Regions from separate parts of the Homo sapiens genome. Here region 2 is linked to region 1. A link means that fine-mapping ties the variant in region 1 to the expression of a gene that starts in the linked region. Tissue or cell type: sigmoid colon. Region 1 holds a variant in brackets; the other region holds the start of a gene. All regions are shown on one strand. Distances are between the middles of the regions.

Evidence for each region. PIP is the estimated chance that this variant, and not a neighbour inherited with it, causes the effect.
Region 2: it holds the start of GLB1L3, and the variant in region 1 is fine-mapped to the expression of GLB1L3 in sigmoid colon (GTEx, PIP above 0.99). The same link has a PIP of 0.9 or more in uterus and vagina.

Annotation. Positions count from the first base shown.
Region 1 is chr11:134,351,887-134,359,990 of GRCh38, reverse strand. GLB1L2 (galactosidase beta 1 like 2) reads right to left here. Exons shown (of 19, transcript NM_001370461.1): 6 at 3,598-3,690; 7 at 850-931. Among named protein-coding and RNA genes, the nearest start is that of GLB1L2, 24 kb to the right of the region's middle. RefSeq lists an enhancer at 751-1,274. The variant C/T (reference allele first, on the strand shown) is at 4,193.
Region 2 is chr11:134,272,243-134,280,346 of GRCh38, reverse strand. GLB1L3 (galactosidase beta 1 like 3) reads right to left here and starts at 3,968. Exons shown (of 20, transcript NM_001080407.3): 1 at 3,584-3,968; 2 at 2,896-3,021; 3 at 2,435-2,647. The coding sequence starts at 3,606. RefSeq lists a silencer at 3,790-3,859 and enhancers at 4,310-4,359, 4,510-4,639, 4,700-4,809, 6,950-7,505.

The DNA of each region.
Region 1 (8,104 bases):
GAGAAGGATTGAGTGAGCCCCACGAAGGAAGAAGTTCAATTTCAAGTGTGGTGCTACAGAAAGCCTCGCTAACTTCGGAGAACAGCCATGTAGCTCTCTGGAAGAAGAGCAAAGCCCCCCAGGCTGGGGATCTGGATGTTGGAGGAACAGTAAAGAGGGTGAAACGGTGTGAGCAAAGGGAAGGAGCAGGAGGTGAGCTCAGCTAGGTCCTGGAGGCCAAGTGGAGAGGCCTTTCGAGGTCATTCCCAGAACCTGCGCTTCACTCTGAGTGTGACAGAGATGCCTGGCGTTCAGCAGGATAGGGTAATCTGGACGACATTTTCAGAGGCACACGGAGGCTGATATGCTGAGAACACATTATGGAGTCAACAGTGAAAATGCTACTGCAGCAATGCAGGCCAGGGGTGCTGCTAGCAGGCAACTGCTTAGGCCTGTAGGGATTCCAGGAGCACTGGGAGATAAAGCAAACAATGGCTTAGGTGCCAGGCGGAATGGAGAGGAGCTCACAGTCACTACCAGGTTCGGGGCCCATGCAGCTGGGAAGAACGGAGCTGCGATGTTCTGAAAACAGGAAGCCCGCACGTGAAGCAGTCATCTGCAGAGTGCCCTTGGAGCCCGAGTGCCCAGCAGGGCAGGAGAACAGCCACCCAGCCAGCCACGCACCACAATCTCTCACACAGACCCTCCCCACTCATGGAACCCAAGGGTGTCTGCAGCCCAGTGCCATATGCACGGGAGAATAACAGGCACCAGAGAAACTCCTACTTGGGTCGCAGTCCCACAGCGGGAGCGTGCACAGCCAGCCCAGGGCCGCCGCCAGCCCCCACGGCCCAACACAAGTGCAGTTACCTCCCTGGACAATCCCCTTGCTCAGCCCATCCTTGTTGTCTGAAGTCAGGAGCAGTTCCACAATGCCACGGTCCTCCAGTGCCTGTGGGGGAAATGAGACAAGCCCTCGTCTGCCCTGGCTCCTTAGAGCTTCTGCAGTGACACACAGCTGCAGTTGGGTAGCCTGAAGAGCTAGAAGGAGAGATGACAAATAAAGCGTTTATTTCTCTGCCAAAAACAGAAAAGTCTCCTGCCATCTGCACCGGCCATGCTCAGCACAGCTCCAATCAGCATGAATTCCCATCACAGCAGGGGCAGGGCTGGCAAACTAGGGCAGCCCCTGGTTGCTCCGGATCTGGAAGGTGCCCGGTGGGCCAGCTAGCATGCCTAGGCGAGTCTACACTGAGGCCAGCTCAGGGAAGCCTGCTGCCGCGTGTCACCCGCCACTGTCTGCTGGGCTCCAGCGAGTAGGTCAGGCCTCCAGGACGACACCTACATCCTTCCCTTCTCTCACAGCACAAGCAACAGGCCTGTCCCTTCCCCACGCTGGCCGGTGTGGGTTTGGGGGATGGCAAGGCCCAGGAGGGCCCACCATGCCCTGTCACGTGCCCACGGTGCACTGCCCATGCCCAGAACAGCAGGAAGCATCCTCCCAGCTGTAAAGCAGAGAGTGAAGTGGAAGAAACGCTGTGCTTGAGGGGCAGTGACGACAATCACCACTCAGAGCGTCCCCTGACATCCGCAGAGCAGTCACTGCCACGCCAGGCCCTCCGCTCATACACAGACTGTCCTACGCGAGCCTTGCAGTTGCTGTCTTCACAGTAGAGACGCGCCTCGGAGGCGTGAAGTCAAGCATCGCAGGTTACAGGGCCCATGGCAACGTGGGCCTGAACCCAGAGCCAAAGGCTCTGTGCTGAGGTGCTAGGATCTTTTGGATCAAAAATCCCAACAGAGGTGTCTTCTCGTAATCTTCCCTGCAGATATTATGCCAAGACTGTTTATTTCCGCTGAAATCTTTTGGAAGTGGATAGACAGCGAGATCATCTGCTGGGCGAATAAGGCTCGTGTCCAGTCCCACACGCGGGGAAGGAAAGAGCAGAGGGGGCTCTGGTCTCAGGCACAGGAGAGCTGCAGAGTTCAATCCATGAGCCCAGGTGGGATTAATCAAGAGTCCTGTATCTACCACCTCACACTATCATTCACTGATATTTAGCAAGCATTTACTTAGGTCCCTACCACATACACACACACTTAACATTTCCTGGGCATTCATTTACCGACTCCACCCCAGAGGGGATAATTGCTCCCGCCTGAGCACCAGAGATCTGCAGAGCTAGGCTGGGAGCAGGCACCTGTTCTCTCACACCACTCTCCCAGCAGCCTCAGAGAGAGGCTGGTGAATTCTCCCAAGAGCTTCCGGACCACAGAGGCTGGACGCTGCTGCTTCTCTTTGCCCACCTGAGTCACACATGGGCGCCTCCGCCCCGACACCAGGGAAGCATGAGTGGAGCAGGACGTCCCTGAGGGAGCTGCACTCTCCTCTCGTGGGGCTCTCCTTCTCTGCAGCTGAGTAACTGAGTCAACAACCGCTGAGAGGCCCCAGGGCCAAGAGACAGTCTGCGGGAATGGGGTATCGCAGGAGACGCTTCAAGTCCTGTGCTGGGATGGGATCTTTCTGTAGGAAGCTGAAGGAGTGCCCTACTCCAGGCCGTGGCTGGGCATGGCCATCAGAATGGACCTTGCCCCTTTCCAGCTTGAGGAATGCCACCCTTCCTGGACACGGCCTTGCTTCCTCCTAAGAGGGCTTTCTGCAGGTGAGAAGGGGGAAGAGTACGCATGAACCCACAAGTTGAAGGGACTGAGCCTCGGTCTCCCACGTGGAGGGACTGAATTAATTTCCAGACGGAAAATGCTCTGCACGTCGTAGCAGAAGGGATGCTGCCCAGGCATCAAGGCCCAAAGCCGTCCGGCCTTCAGGTAGGTGGAGTCACTGCGGCCACTTACACTTCCTCAGCTCACACCATGGCCGAACCTCCAAGGTACTCCACAGCAAATGCCAATGATTCCATCAAGGTCTTATTTATTGACGACTTACTAGAACAGTACTGAGCTGCGGGATATCACATCATACTCACAATTTGGAAAGGTAAATACTCCTATTAGTCACACTTTATAGAAGAGAGAAAGGAGGTTTAGAAAAAACTCGAGGCATTTGTTCAAGGTCTCAGCTACTAAGGGACAGAAAGCAGATCTGAATGTAGCCTGTTATTTTAAGTGTGGCTCTGCCCTTCGCTGGTCAGTCATGCATTGAGTCAGTGGCTCTCAGCCTTCCCTACACACTGAAACCAGATGTCTGAGAACCCCAAGGATTCTTCTTTGCTTGGTATGGTACATGGCCTGGGCGCAGGGATTTCTTAAAACTCCCCAGATAGAGCCAGTGTGCAGCCTGGGCTGGGAACCACTGCTTTAGACTTTAGAATTGGAGCCGCCTCTCCAGGAAGCCTTCCTAATCATCACCACGCAATTAAGCCAATTCCTTTATTCCCAGCCCCTGCAATACCAGGTGTGTACTGAAATTCCCAGATGAAACTCAATCAAGGGTAAATAAGTGACAACCCTGTTGAAATAAAACAACAGAGAAAATTCACTAATACATGATGTTGGAGGATGTATTAATATGAGAAAAATATTAGACCCACATGTCACACCACAGCCTATAGCACACTCCAGAGGAAGGAATCTAAAGAAACGCACTAAGAGGATTCTTACCTTCTTGACGTAGGGCATGTATGCGGGGTCTTTATTATAGGAACCATATTCATTCTCCACCTGCACGGCAATGATAGGTCCCCCACGCTTGTACTGCGGAGAAAAGACAGAAAACCAGGAGCTGAGTGTGCAGGGGAACTGTAGTATCCAACCCTGCCACGCCCATCACCAGTGACTAGCAAAAGATCCCATTGAAAACTAAAATCTCAAAAGATTAGTATCAATAAGACAGTGGAAGAAGCACTAGGCCCTTGTTCTCCCATGAAAACATCAAGAAAACAACTCCAGACTGACTAAAATAACTTAATAGGAGCTCTGGAAACCATTTAAGTGTCTAACCAAACAAGTGACCACCAAATCAAAACAAAAAGTCATATGCAAAATGGTACAAAATTGTATGATGTTTTCACAAGTTCTTGCCCCACCCCAATGTAGCATGGTGTGGTCAGGAGGATGCGTCCCAACTCCCCGCTCCCTCATGGGGAAGAAGCAAAATGGAACTTGTTGATAATGTTCTAACTTGTTTACAATGTTCTAACTTGTTCACGATGTTCTAACTTGTTCTGCCCAACGTACTGGTTTCTGTCTTGTCTGA[C/T]ATGGAGCTCAAACAGGAATCGTCAACATAGTTTGGACTTCAGGCTGGAAGCTAAAGATGGCAGCATATGAAAGCTGCCAGAGGACTATAAAGCCTTGGATGCCTGGGGGAAAAGAATTACAGCAAAAGAAAATGAAAAGCATCTAAGGCCACAAGAAGAAGCTGGGGTGAGACTCTGGGAATTAAAGACCCTTGAAAGCGACCAGGGAGGGGAGGTAGGGAGGGAAGCACACACACAGATACAGACAGAACACATGCCCAGAAAATATCAGCTCTTAAGTCTTCATGTTGGGCTGATCTCCGGGCTTAGGGGCCCACTAATTAGTGAGGGTTCCCCTGAAAACATGCAAAAACTGAAATAGGTGTTTGTTTTTTCAAAAGCCCAATGTTCAACCAAAAAAACACAAACATAAAAAGAAACAGGGAAGTATGACTCATCAAAGGAACAAAATAAATCTCCAAAAGCAGTATCTGAAGAAACACACACACCAGACTCAGTAGAGCAAGATCTATAACAGCTGTCGTAAATATGCTCAAGGAGCTAAAGGAAACCAGGCAAATGATATATGAAGAAAAAGAGAATATCAACAAAGAAACAGAGATTATTTTTAAAAGAACCAAAGGAACTTCTGGGGCTGAAATATACCATATATAAATTGAAAAATTCACTAGAGGAGTTCAACGGCAGATTCAAACAGGTAGAAGAAAGAAAAGCAAACTTAAACACAGGTTATCAGAAATGATCAGGTCTGAGGAGATAAAAGAATAAAGAAAAGTGAACAGAGCCTAAGGGGCTTACACAACATCTTCAAGCAGAATAATATATGAATTATGGGTTTCTTAGAAGAAAAAGAGAGATAAAAGGGCAGGGAGATTATTTTTACAAAATAATAGCTGAAAACTTCTCCAATTTGAGGAAAGACAAGATTATATAAATCTAAGGAGCTCAAAAAATTCCAGAGAACCACTCAGGGACACTCTATAATCAAACCATTGAAGACAAAGAGAGATTCTTGAATGCCAGAAAAAGTTTTGGTCACAGGCAAGGGATCCTCAATAAGACTATAAAGGATATCTCAGCCAGAAAATTTTCAGGCCAGAAGGCAATGAGATGATATAGTCAAAGTGCTGAAAGGAAAAAGTGTCAACTTTTTTTTTGACACTTCTATATCCAGCAAAACTCAAAAATGAGGGAAAAATTAAGAAATTCCCAAAGTAAAGCTAAGAGAGTTCATTACCACTAGACCTTCCCTAGAAAAAAAACACCTAAAGTTGAAATGAAAAAATGCTAGAGAGTAATTTGAAGCTATATGAAAATATAAAGTTCTCCAGCAAAGATAGACACATAAAAAATATAAAAATATTATTATAATTTTTCTTTACAATGTGGCTTTTTATTTTCTACAAGATTTTAAAAGACATAAAATAATTATAAATTTAAGTTAATGGGTACACCCAATATGAAGACATAATTTGTGACATCAATAAAATAAAGTGGAAGGGCAGAACTGTAAAGGAGTTTTTGTGTGCAGTTGAAGTTAGGTTGGTATCAATTTAAAACAGAATGTCACAACTTTAGGATATTATATATCCTTTACCTTATCCCAAGGTAAAGGGAATCGTTATAAAAAAGTGTCACTATAAAAAAATCAACTAGATACAAAGTAAAGCAGTCATAAAGGAAATGAGGGACAAAAAGCTGTAAGACATACAGAAAGCAACAAAATGGCAAAAGCAAGTGATTCTCTATCAGTAATTACTTTGAATGTAAACACATTAAACTCCCCAATCAAAAGACATACATTGGCAGAATGGATTTTTAACAAACCGATATCCAACTATATACTATCTACAAGACACTCACTTCAGATCTAAGGATATTTATTGGTTGGAAGTGAAAGGCTGGAAAAAGATATTTTATGCAAACAGTAATCAAAAGAGGAGGGGTGGCTTTGCTAATATCAAACAAAATAGACTTTATATCAAAAACTGTTACAAGAGACAAAGACATGATAAAATATATATAATGATAAAAGGGTCAATTCACCAAAAGGATATAACAATTATAAACATATATGCACCAAATGCCAGAATTCCAAAGTATATGAGCCAAACAGTGGCAAAATTAAAGGGAAAAATAGACAATAATAGTAGGAGACTCAATATCTGAATATCAATAATGGATAGAGTAACCAGACAGAAAATTAGTAACCAAATAGAGGACCTAGACAATATTATGGACCAGTTGGACCAAACATATATATACACAACATTCCACCCAAAAGTAGCACAATACACATTTTTCTCATGGGCACATAAAACACTCTCCAGGATAAACCATATAGTAAGCCAAAAAAACAAGCCTTAATAAATTTTTCTTTTTTAAAAAAAAACAGAGTCTTGCTCTGTCACCCAGGCTGGAGTGCAGTGGCACAATCTTGGCTCACTGCAACCTCCATCTCCCAGGTTCAAGTGATTCTTGTGCCTCAGCCTCCCAAGTAGCTGGGATTACAGGTGCCCGTCACCACACCTGGCTAATTTTTGTATTTTTTAGTAGAGAATGGGTTTCAACATGTTGGCCAAGCTGGTCTCTAACTCCCGACCTCAAGTGTTCCACTTGCCTCGGCCTCCCAAAGTGCTAGGATTACAGGCATGAGCCACCACACCCAGCCTCAAGCTTTAATAAATTTAAAAAATTGAAATCTTACAAAGTTTTATTTTTCCCAATCACAATGGAATGAAACTAGAAATCAATAACCAAAAAAGTCCTGAAAAATTCAAGTATGTGGAAATAAAATCTTCACCAATAGTCCAAAGAGGAAATCACAAGAGACATTAGAAAATATATTGAGGCCAGGCGCAGTGGCTCACGCCTGTAATCCCAGCACTTTGGGAGGCCAAGGCGGGCGGATCACCTGAGATAGGGAGTTCAAGACCAGCCCGGCCAACAAGGGGAAACCCCGTCTCTACTAAAAATACAAATATCAGCCGGGCGTGGTCACGGGCACCTGTAATCCCAGCTACTTGGGAGGGTGAGTAATGAGAATCACTTGAACCTGGGAGGCGGACGTTGTAGTGAGCTGAGATCATGCCACTGCACTCCTGCCTGGGCGACAAGAGCGAGACTCCATCTCAAAAAAAAAAAAAAAGAAGACATATTGAGAAAAATGAAAATGGAAATAAAATTATGAATTACAGTGAAAGCAGTGCAAAGAGGGAAATTTTATAGCTATAAATACATTTAAAAGACAAAAGGTCTCAAACCAACAACTTAACTTTATACCTTAAGAAACCAGAAAAAGGGAAACAAACTAAAAGGTAGCAGAAGTAAGGAAATAATAAAGATTAGAGCAGAGATAGACAATGAGAGAATAGAAAAACAATAAAGAAAAATTAATGAAACCAAGAGTTGGTTATTTGAAAAGATCAACAAAACTGACAAACTGCAGCTAAACTAAGAAAAAAGATATGACTCAACTAAAATCAGAAACAACATGAGGCTATTACTGCTGATTTTACAGAAATAAAAACGATTACAGAAGAGGAATATGAACAAATTGTACGCCAACAAATTAAATATTAAATAACCTAGATGAAACACACAAATTCCTAGAAATATATAATATGCCAAAACTAAATCATGAAGAAATATAAAATCTGAACAGACCTATAACTAGTAAGGACACTGAATCAGTAACTAAAAACCTCCCAACAAAGAAAAGTCCAGGACCAGATGGCTTCACTGGTAAATTCTACCAAATATTTAAAGAAAAATTAACGCCAGTCTTCCTCAAACCCTTCCCAAAAATTGAAAGGGAAGGAACACTTCCTACCTTATTCTATAAGGTAGAATACAGTAATAAACTCTTTTCACTTTTCTTTGGGAATTTCTTAATTTTTCCCTCATTTTTG
Region 2 (8,104 bases), 80 kb after region 1:
GACCAAAATTTAAAATGCATGAAACAGTTGTAAAATATTGGCATGTACTATGTCACGAAGTAAATCTCAACAAATTCCAAAAACCTATATCACATAGTCCATGATCCCAAGATAAATGCAAACAAATTTAAAAATCACAGTTAAATAGTAAAATTTAAATAAATAAATAAATAAATAAAACAGAAAGCGTATTCCCAAATAGCTAATAGAAACAACATCAAAACTTAGGAAATATTTGAAAATAAATGACATTCAAAGCACTATATAGCAAAATTTGTGGGCTATATAACCAAAGCAACACTCAGAGAAACATTCATATCTTTGAAGGAATATATTAGAAAACACAAAAGACTGGAAGTAAAAGAAGCTAAATTTTAACTCAGGGAAAAAGAAGAAGGAGGAGGAGGAAACTGAGAAGGACAGAGAAGAGAAGGTACTATATTTAATAAAGTAGAGAAAAGGAAATTACACATAACTCAGAAACTGTGAAATACAGATCCGAAATATACAGAGAGTACTAACAAAGCTACAAGCTAGTTATCTGAAAAGACTAAATAGATAAGATTAAGAAAAAAGAAAAAAACAGCCAAAATACACAACGTGATGTATATAACTTCCAAGTGAGTACAGGAAAGAAAGGAAAAATTTCTTAAGTCCCAGTGGGTTCAAAAGAAGAAAGAAGGCTGGGCGAGGTGGCTCACATCTGTAATCCCAGCACTTTGGGAGGCCGAGGCAGGCGGATCACCTGAGGTCAGGAGTTTGAGACCAGCCTGACCGATATGGTGAAACCCCATCTCTACTAAAAATACAAAAATTAGCCGGGTGTGGTGGCGGGAGCCATAATCCCAGCTACTCAGGAGGGTGAGGCAGGAGAATCACTTGAACCCAGGAGGGGGAGGTTGCAGTGAGCAGAGATCGCGCCACTGCACTCCAGCCTGGGCAACAGAGCAAGACTCTATCTCAAAAAAAAAAAAAAAAAAAAGAAAAAGAAAACAGAAAGAAAAAAGAAAGGAAAGAAAAAAAGGGGGAGAGCAGGATGTATTCAAGAAGAAATAGAGGACATGAGTTAATAACCATTCAAAGAGCTATGTCGTCCCCAAACCCTTCACCTCACAAACCACAAAAGATAGTAGTCACAGAGTTTACAGGTGAATCTTAAGAAACTTTCAGGGTAAAGATAATTCTTGTGCAAAATATTTCCAATAAGTAAGAAAAGAAGATTTACTCACTTTATGAGCTTATTATAAGATTGATTCAAAACTGGACAAGAATACTAACAAAATAAAATTTTAAATCCGTTTTGCTTATAATCATAAACACATTTGAAATAAAACACTAGCAAATAAAGTCTAGCAATCTGTGTGTATGTAATGTGTGCCTATCTCAGAGCCAAGCAGAGTTTATACCAGTACCACATGGCTGCTTGACTATCAGAAAAATTGCCGTTGTAATTCAGCAATTCAAAAGAACAGTGAAGAAAAACTATATTGTCCCCCCAATACATGCAGTAGCAGCTCTCAATAAAACTCAACGATTATTTCTGATTAAATTCTTTGCATTTTAAATGAACCAGTTTACTGCCTCTCAGCTTCAAATTCACCCTTCAATACCAGCTCTGCAATAAGGCACAGGGCCCTCTAAGCATCTTCTCCTTTACAGTGAGTGTGATGGTAAGCTTGCCACAAAATGGTGGTGGCAGGCCCTCAGGAGGACAGGGCCTCTGATTCTGGAGCAGTTTTGCTTTTTTGTGGTCATACAGGGTGGCTGGTCAGTTGTATACAGGCATGAGGACGACCGTGGTGTTCCCTTTTAAAGGGTGAACTGCTTGAGTCCAGGAGTTTGAGACCAGCCCAGGCAACATGGCGAAACTCCATCTCTACAAACAATTCAAAAAATTAGCCTGGTGTGGTGGCATGCACCTGTGGCCCCAGCTGTTCAGGAGGCTGAGGCAGGAGGATCACCTGAGCCAGAGAAGTAGAAGCTGCCGTGAGCTAAGATCGGGCCACTGCACTCCAGCCTGAGCAACAAACAGAACAACAAACTGTGTCTCAAAAAAAAAAATTTTTTTTTGTTTTAAAAACATGCATGTATCTGTAAGTACATATTTATCTGTAAGTGTGCCTTAAGCTTATGTCATTAAACTGAGTGCTCCCAAGGGCGCCTGGTGTTCCTTCATTAGACAGACAGAATCCTGAGGAAATAACCTCCTCCCTTGAGATTCTCCCACTAACCCCTATCCAAGTCTTTGATCACAGAGCAAACTCAGCATGAGACTAAGTGACAGCTGGACGCTTAAGCATTAAATGTATGTGCTGGAAACGACTGTGCGGAAGGTAAGTCCTCACGCTGGGCCCCCAAAATCGGAGGCTCAGGTTCCCGGCCAGGATGCACTTGTAGGGTAACGAGATCCTGGAGGTGAGGGGCCGGCACTCACGTGGTGACAGTATTGAAGCCACAGGCCTTCAGCTTCAGCAGGCGGTCCCTCCAGTACTCCCTGGGCACCCGGAAATAGTGGATGGAGCCCCCGAAGATCAGGAACTTGTGGCCCTCCAGTGTGAAGTGGGGCTTACCCCGACCTGTGCTTTCAGTTCCAAGTCCCACAGATCGATTCTTCAGCTCCAGAGGGGTCAGATGAGACCAATTAAACCTGGAGGGGGCGGGCGAGGGAAAGAAAGTGGAAAGGGAGAGAGGATTCGGGAGAGGGCTCGGAGGCACGGCTGAAACCCTAGCGAAAAGAAGTTTTTGTTAGTAGGACGTGTTCTGTGCATATGTTAGTAGGACGTGTTCTGTGCATATGTTAGTAGGACGTGTTCTGTGCATATTCGCGATACTATTTTCTCCAAGAAAGGAGAGATCGCTCCCCTCCCTCCCCAGGGATGTAGCTCTCAAGCAAACCTAGGCTGGGACGGATGCGCTCTTCCAAGCATGAAGTTCTCTTCCTGCTTAAACCGAGGAGCAAAACCTGATGAGATAAATGGCAGGAAAAAGATGCCCGCCATTCTCTTCCAGGAGAGACACGGGCTGAAAGGAGAAAGGACAACAGTGACAAGGGGAAGGTTCCGGCCCCACCGGGCTGCAAGGGCCGGGAAGCTGTGCCGGGGGCGCTTTAGAGGCCAGAGCCAGGGAGGGGGCCCGCGACACAGGCGGGTCTTCCAGGCGGGCCCAGGGCCAGGACAGCGCGGCATCACCCGGCCAGTCCTCTGCAGCCAGGATGAAGGCCGGGGACAGACGTTCAGTCCTAGACCCTCCAGACAGGGCTGGGCAGTGCCGGTGGGTGCCTGGGAGAGGCGGAGGCGGGCGCACTTCCAGCACCAGGTTCGGGAAGGACACGGTGCCCAGCCGCTGGAGCCCCTGGCCTGCGTGCCCCACCCTGATTTTCTGGCATCTGGTGAACGGCCCCTCCGCAGGGTGGGGGTAGCCAGGGGATCTGCCGAGGAAAGCTGGGGACAGCGGGCTTGGTGGCGCGGCCCGGCGCGGCGCGTGCCTGGGGCGCGTGGCCGGCCACAGAACCCGGGGAGGGTGGAGGCTCCCGGGCACGCGCCGGGGTGGTGGGCAGCCCGGGACGGCAGCGGCGATCCGTCACCTGAGGAGGGGCGGGGACTTCATCGCGGCCAGGCCGAGGCGCCGAGGGTCCCTTGCGGCTTCCGCCCCTCTCCGCTGGCCCCGACGCCGCGCTCGGGCCGGGACTCGAGCCCCGGTTCCGCGGGGCAGGCTCAGGTCTGCGCGCTGCGCCTGCAGCCGAGGCAGAAATCCGTCCCGAGGCGCGGGCGCCGGGTCCGGGTCCCAAGGATGCGCGTCGGGCTCCCTCCCGCGGGGACAGCCGAGCTCCGCCGGCGCTCCAGGTGTTCCCGCAGTGCGTCCGGGCGCGGACGCCTCTCTGCCCTCGGAGGGGAAGCGGGAGGGCCCTTGGGGTAACGCCCCGACCTCGGGCTTCCTAACCTGGGTCGACAGCCGGCTGGCACAGGGAGGCCTGCGCGGGAGAGGGGCGGAGAGAGCGCAGCGCGGGGCACAGCGGGCGGTCTCCGTGCCGCGCGCGCGACTGGAAACGGCGTGCAGATCCTAAAACGAGGGTTCCACAGAGGGCCACGAGGGGCAGGAGAGAGTCCCCGGAGAACTCTAGCTCCCCGACACGGCTACCTCTTGGCAAACGAGCGAGAATTGGGGCGCAGAGCCTTGGGAGGGCCGTTCCCTCGGCGGGAGCGGCCCGAGCACAGCCTCACAGCAGATGCGAGCGCGGCGGGCGCTTTGGTGACGAAGTAGCGGGACCTGCAGGAGGCAGAGGCCTGGTGGGGCCGTGGACGCCACGCCGAGCTGCCCAGACCCTTCCAGAAGACAGTGGGGACTATTCAACGGTTTCCAGCAGAAACTAAGCCAGGTGTTCGTTTTACGGAGATTGCTCGGCTGCAGGGTGGAGGCTGGATGAGAACAGGCGTCCTCTCAGGTAGGCGCTCGTGGTGGTAACGCTGCCCAGGAGGAGGGCACGGGTTCCGGGAAGACTTGCGAGGTTAAACCGGCAGCTCCGGAGAACTGAGCGCAAGAGGTCGGTGACACAGAGAGGAGTCCGGGAGGCCGCATGTTTCAGGCTGAAGTCACTTGGCGGGGACGTTTATTGAGATGCGAAACACAGGAAGGGATAGAGGCTGCGCAGAGGGAAAAGGCGATGGACTCGGTTTTGGAAACGCTGATGTGAAGTCCCTACGATGAAAAAAGAAATCTTCCGATTTCTCCCTTTGAAGTCTTTGCTTCTTCCGTTGCAAAGAACACAGCCTATGACATCAGGTTGAAACCAAGAATGTAGTTCTCTGAAAATACTGTGTGTGGGGGAGGGAGTTTATCTTGTCTCATTCCTTACAAGGATACTTTGCTCTCCGACACCTTAGCTCCCTGAAAGTTTCCTAGATCGTCCATCTTTTCCTCATTTTTTCGACTGCAAGCAATGAACTGTTAATTTTTTACAGTTTGGTTTTACAGCCACACACTTTATTCTTCTTTGTCAAGTTTAAAGTATTCTAGGGCTTGTGCCTTCCCACATAAAATTTAGAATAAACTTGTCTGTTTCTACAAAAAGCCATGTTGGTATTTCGAGAGGAATTGCAATCAACCTATGGATCAAATTGAGAATTGTATCCTTATTATGTTGAATCTTCCAACCCACGAACATGGTATGTCTGTCTATTTAAATAGTTTTTTTTTTTTCACTTCTTTCATCAGAATTGTGTGATTTTTTCAACATCAGATCCTATCACGTTTTGTTAGGTTTATACTTAAATATTTCCTTTGCTCTCAAGAGATTTAAACTGTTATTATTTTTATTTCAGTTTTTACATGTTTGTTGTTAGCATACAGAAATGTGATTGTGTTTCTCATGTTGATCTCATATCCTGTGACCTTGGCAAACTCACCTATTAATTTTAAGAGGTTATTTGTGTATTACTTGGCATTTTCCATGTAGATAATCATGTCATCTGCAAATATGGAGAGTTTTATTTCTACCTTTCCAGTCTGCGTGGCTTTTTATTCCTTTTTTTGTGTGTCTTAGTATGATGACTAAAATTTCTGTGTTGAATAAGAGCGGCAGGAACTGACACTGTTACCTTGTCCCCAGTGTCAGCTGGAAAACATTCTGTTTTTCACTATTAAGTATGATGACAGCTATAGGTTTTGTGTACATATTCTCTATCAAGTTGAAAGAGTTTGACAGCTGGGCCTGCAGTCACTAGAAATGCTGTGGTGCTTTATTGGAACAAGCTATGTATCAAGAATTGTGATTTTCTGCAGGCGTTGCTGGAGGAATTTTGACAAAGGTAGAAGAATCAAATAATGGATTATTGGTTCATTTGAAAGATGACATATCCTGTGTCCTTTTGCCATCTGGGGCTCCCCTCTGCTGATGGAGTATTTGAGAACCTCTATGAAGGAGCCCTGGAGAGTGAAAGTTCCCCCAGATTTCTGTGCTCATTAAACCTGTAGAACTCTTGAAAATGTGCAAGGTGAAGTAACAATTTTGATCAAACAAAGCTGTCAGTTTCTGTCTTGAGATTACAGAAGTAACTCTACAAGGCCAACATCCCAAGCACAGGAAAGACCAGCCACTAGGGCCGCAGACCCAGCATCCTGGTACAATTTATTAAAAAAAAAAAAAAAAATCAATATTTTTCCCTTCAGTTTCCATCCAGATAACTGATAATGAAACAAAGAGCTAATTTCCCAAAGCAGGCAGAAAGCATCAAAAAGCTCCCAGAGCTGAGTGTGCAAACTTCCTGTGCCAGTGCTTTGATGTTAATAAAGCACAATTCCTGCTCCTAAATTGCTCTCTTGTAAGAACAGCAGCTTCCAGAAAAAGAAGGCAGCACTTTCTGTTGCTTTAGTAGTGGACAACCCTATAGGAGTTAATGTATGAACCAGAAAAGACAATTCTTGATTTCTTCTTAGGTTGAACTTCTTAAAGAAATGTATGTGACAACTGTATAATAAGAACCCTTGTGAGATCCAAAAACCTGGGTTAGGAACTAATATTATCAGTGAAAAATTAAAGGGAAAGATTATCAACTATTAATATTCCAGTGTCAGAGAGCTGTGAACAAAGAGTTGAGGCAGAGATATCTTTAAGGTTAAAGTATGCAAAATCTGTTGTTTACTTGTAAGATCATCTTTCTAGGTTTATTGATAGTTAATAAAAAGCAGCAAAATTTATAAAAGTGAAAATTTAGCCACTTCTACTTGTAAGCCATCCTTGTTAGAGAAACTCTTTGTTTACTTAAGTCATGTTTACTACAGGAAATGAAAAATGCTCATTTGAGCTATAAAATGGACTCCGTGGTCTCTTAGTAATTAATTTAACCCATGATGACACGCAGTTCACAGGCTGAGATGGAGGGATAGGTAGATGACAGATACATCCCTGCTAGAGATCTTCAGAGCCCTAGCTTTAAATTTCATCCTTACAGACATTCAAACTTTAAGTAAATTGATAACCTGTCTCCCACAGATTAAAAAATAAATGAAGTGGATATGCACCCCATCACGCAGGGCCACTCCCAGCAGAGGGAAGTGAAGCAGCCGGCCTCCTGTCCCTCCACAGGGTAACTAACGCTCAAGTGCAGGCCTTTCTAAAGGAGCTGCTCAGCAGGCGGCAGCCCAGCTCGGCCACCGGGCTCTGGCTGTTATCATTCAAATGTGCCTTTTTTATGGACTGAGTCTGCTAGATGCATTCATTAGTTAAGGAAATGGAAAATCATGCGGAGCTCCAGGTGAGAACCCAAGGTTAAAGTGTGTTCTCAAGAGTCTTCTCCCCTGGGAGTTGAAGTTAATCAGCCTGATCAGGTCGGGGGGGAAGGCTTCCTCTCTGCATGAGTGCAGCCTTGGTGATGGAAAAGGGCCACCCTTGAGAAGGTAAGAGAGGAGGGAAGATCGCTGTCTCCATGGGGCACCCAGCAAGAGGCTGCTGTCCTTGCAGATAACCTGATCCATTGAGCTAAGAGCTGGATGGGGAGTGTCTGTAAGAATATTAAAATCCTTATCCAAAAGTGATTTATTTTCATCAGGTTTTTTCCTCTGTTATGAATAGCTGACATTTACCAAGCACTCGTGTGCCAGGCACAGTTCTGCATGTTTGACATTTCTGTCTATTGTCTCTTAACTCTCACAGCACCAGAAAGCGGGTACCATTAGTATCCCTCCTTTATCAGTGAGGAAACTAGAGCACAGAGGCTTTCAGTGACGTCACACAGCAGGCTGTTGACAGCTGGGATCTGAAGGCCCTGGAATGGAAAGATTCAGTCTCATATTGCCCAATTCGGTTCGCTGGACTCTGCTCAGCAAGCAGCCGCGTGCGAAGCACTGCTCTTGTTCAAACTAAGTGAGATGGCCTAGGTGAAAATGCTTCAGGAAAAGCACACAAATGCACTTAAAATTAAAGTATAACCACGTGGCTAGCAAAGCGGAAAGTGAAATGCTTCTAAACCATCAGGTCTATAAAATAAACTATGGGAACATGGAAAACTATATCCAAATATTAGAAGGCTTAAAAATTCTTCTGTTTTTTCGGCTGGGCGTGGTGGCTCACACCTGTAATCCCAGCGCTTTGGGAGACCAGAGGTGCACA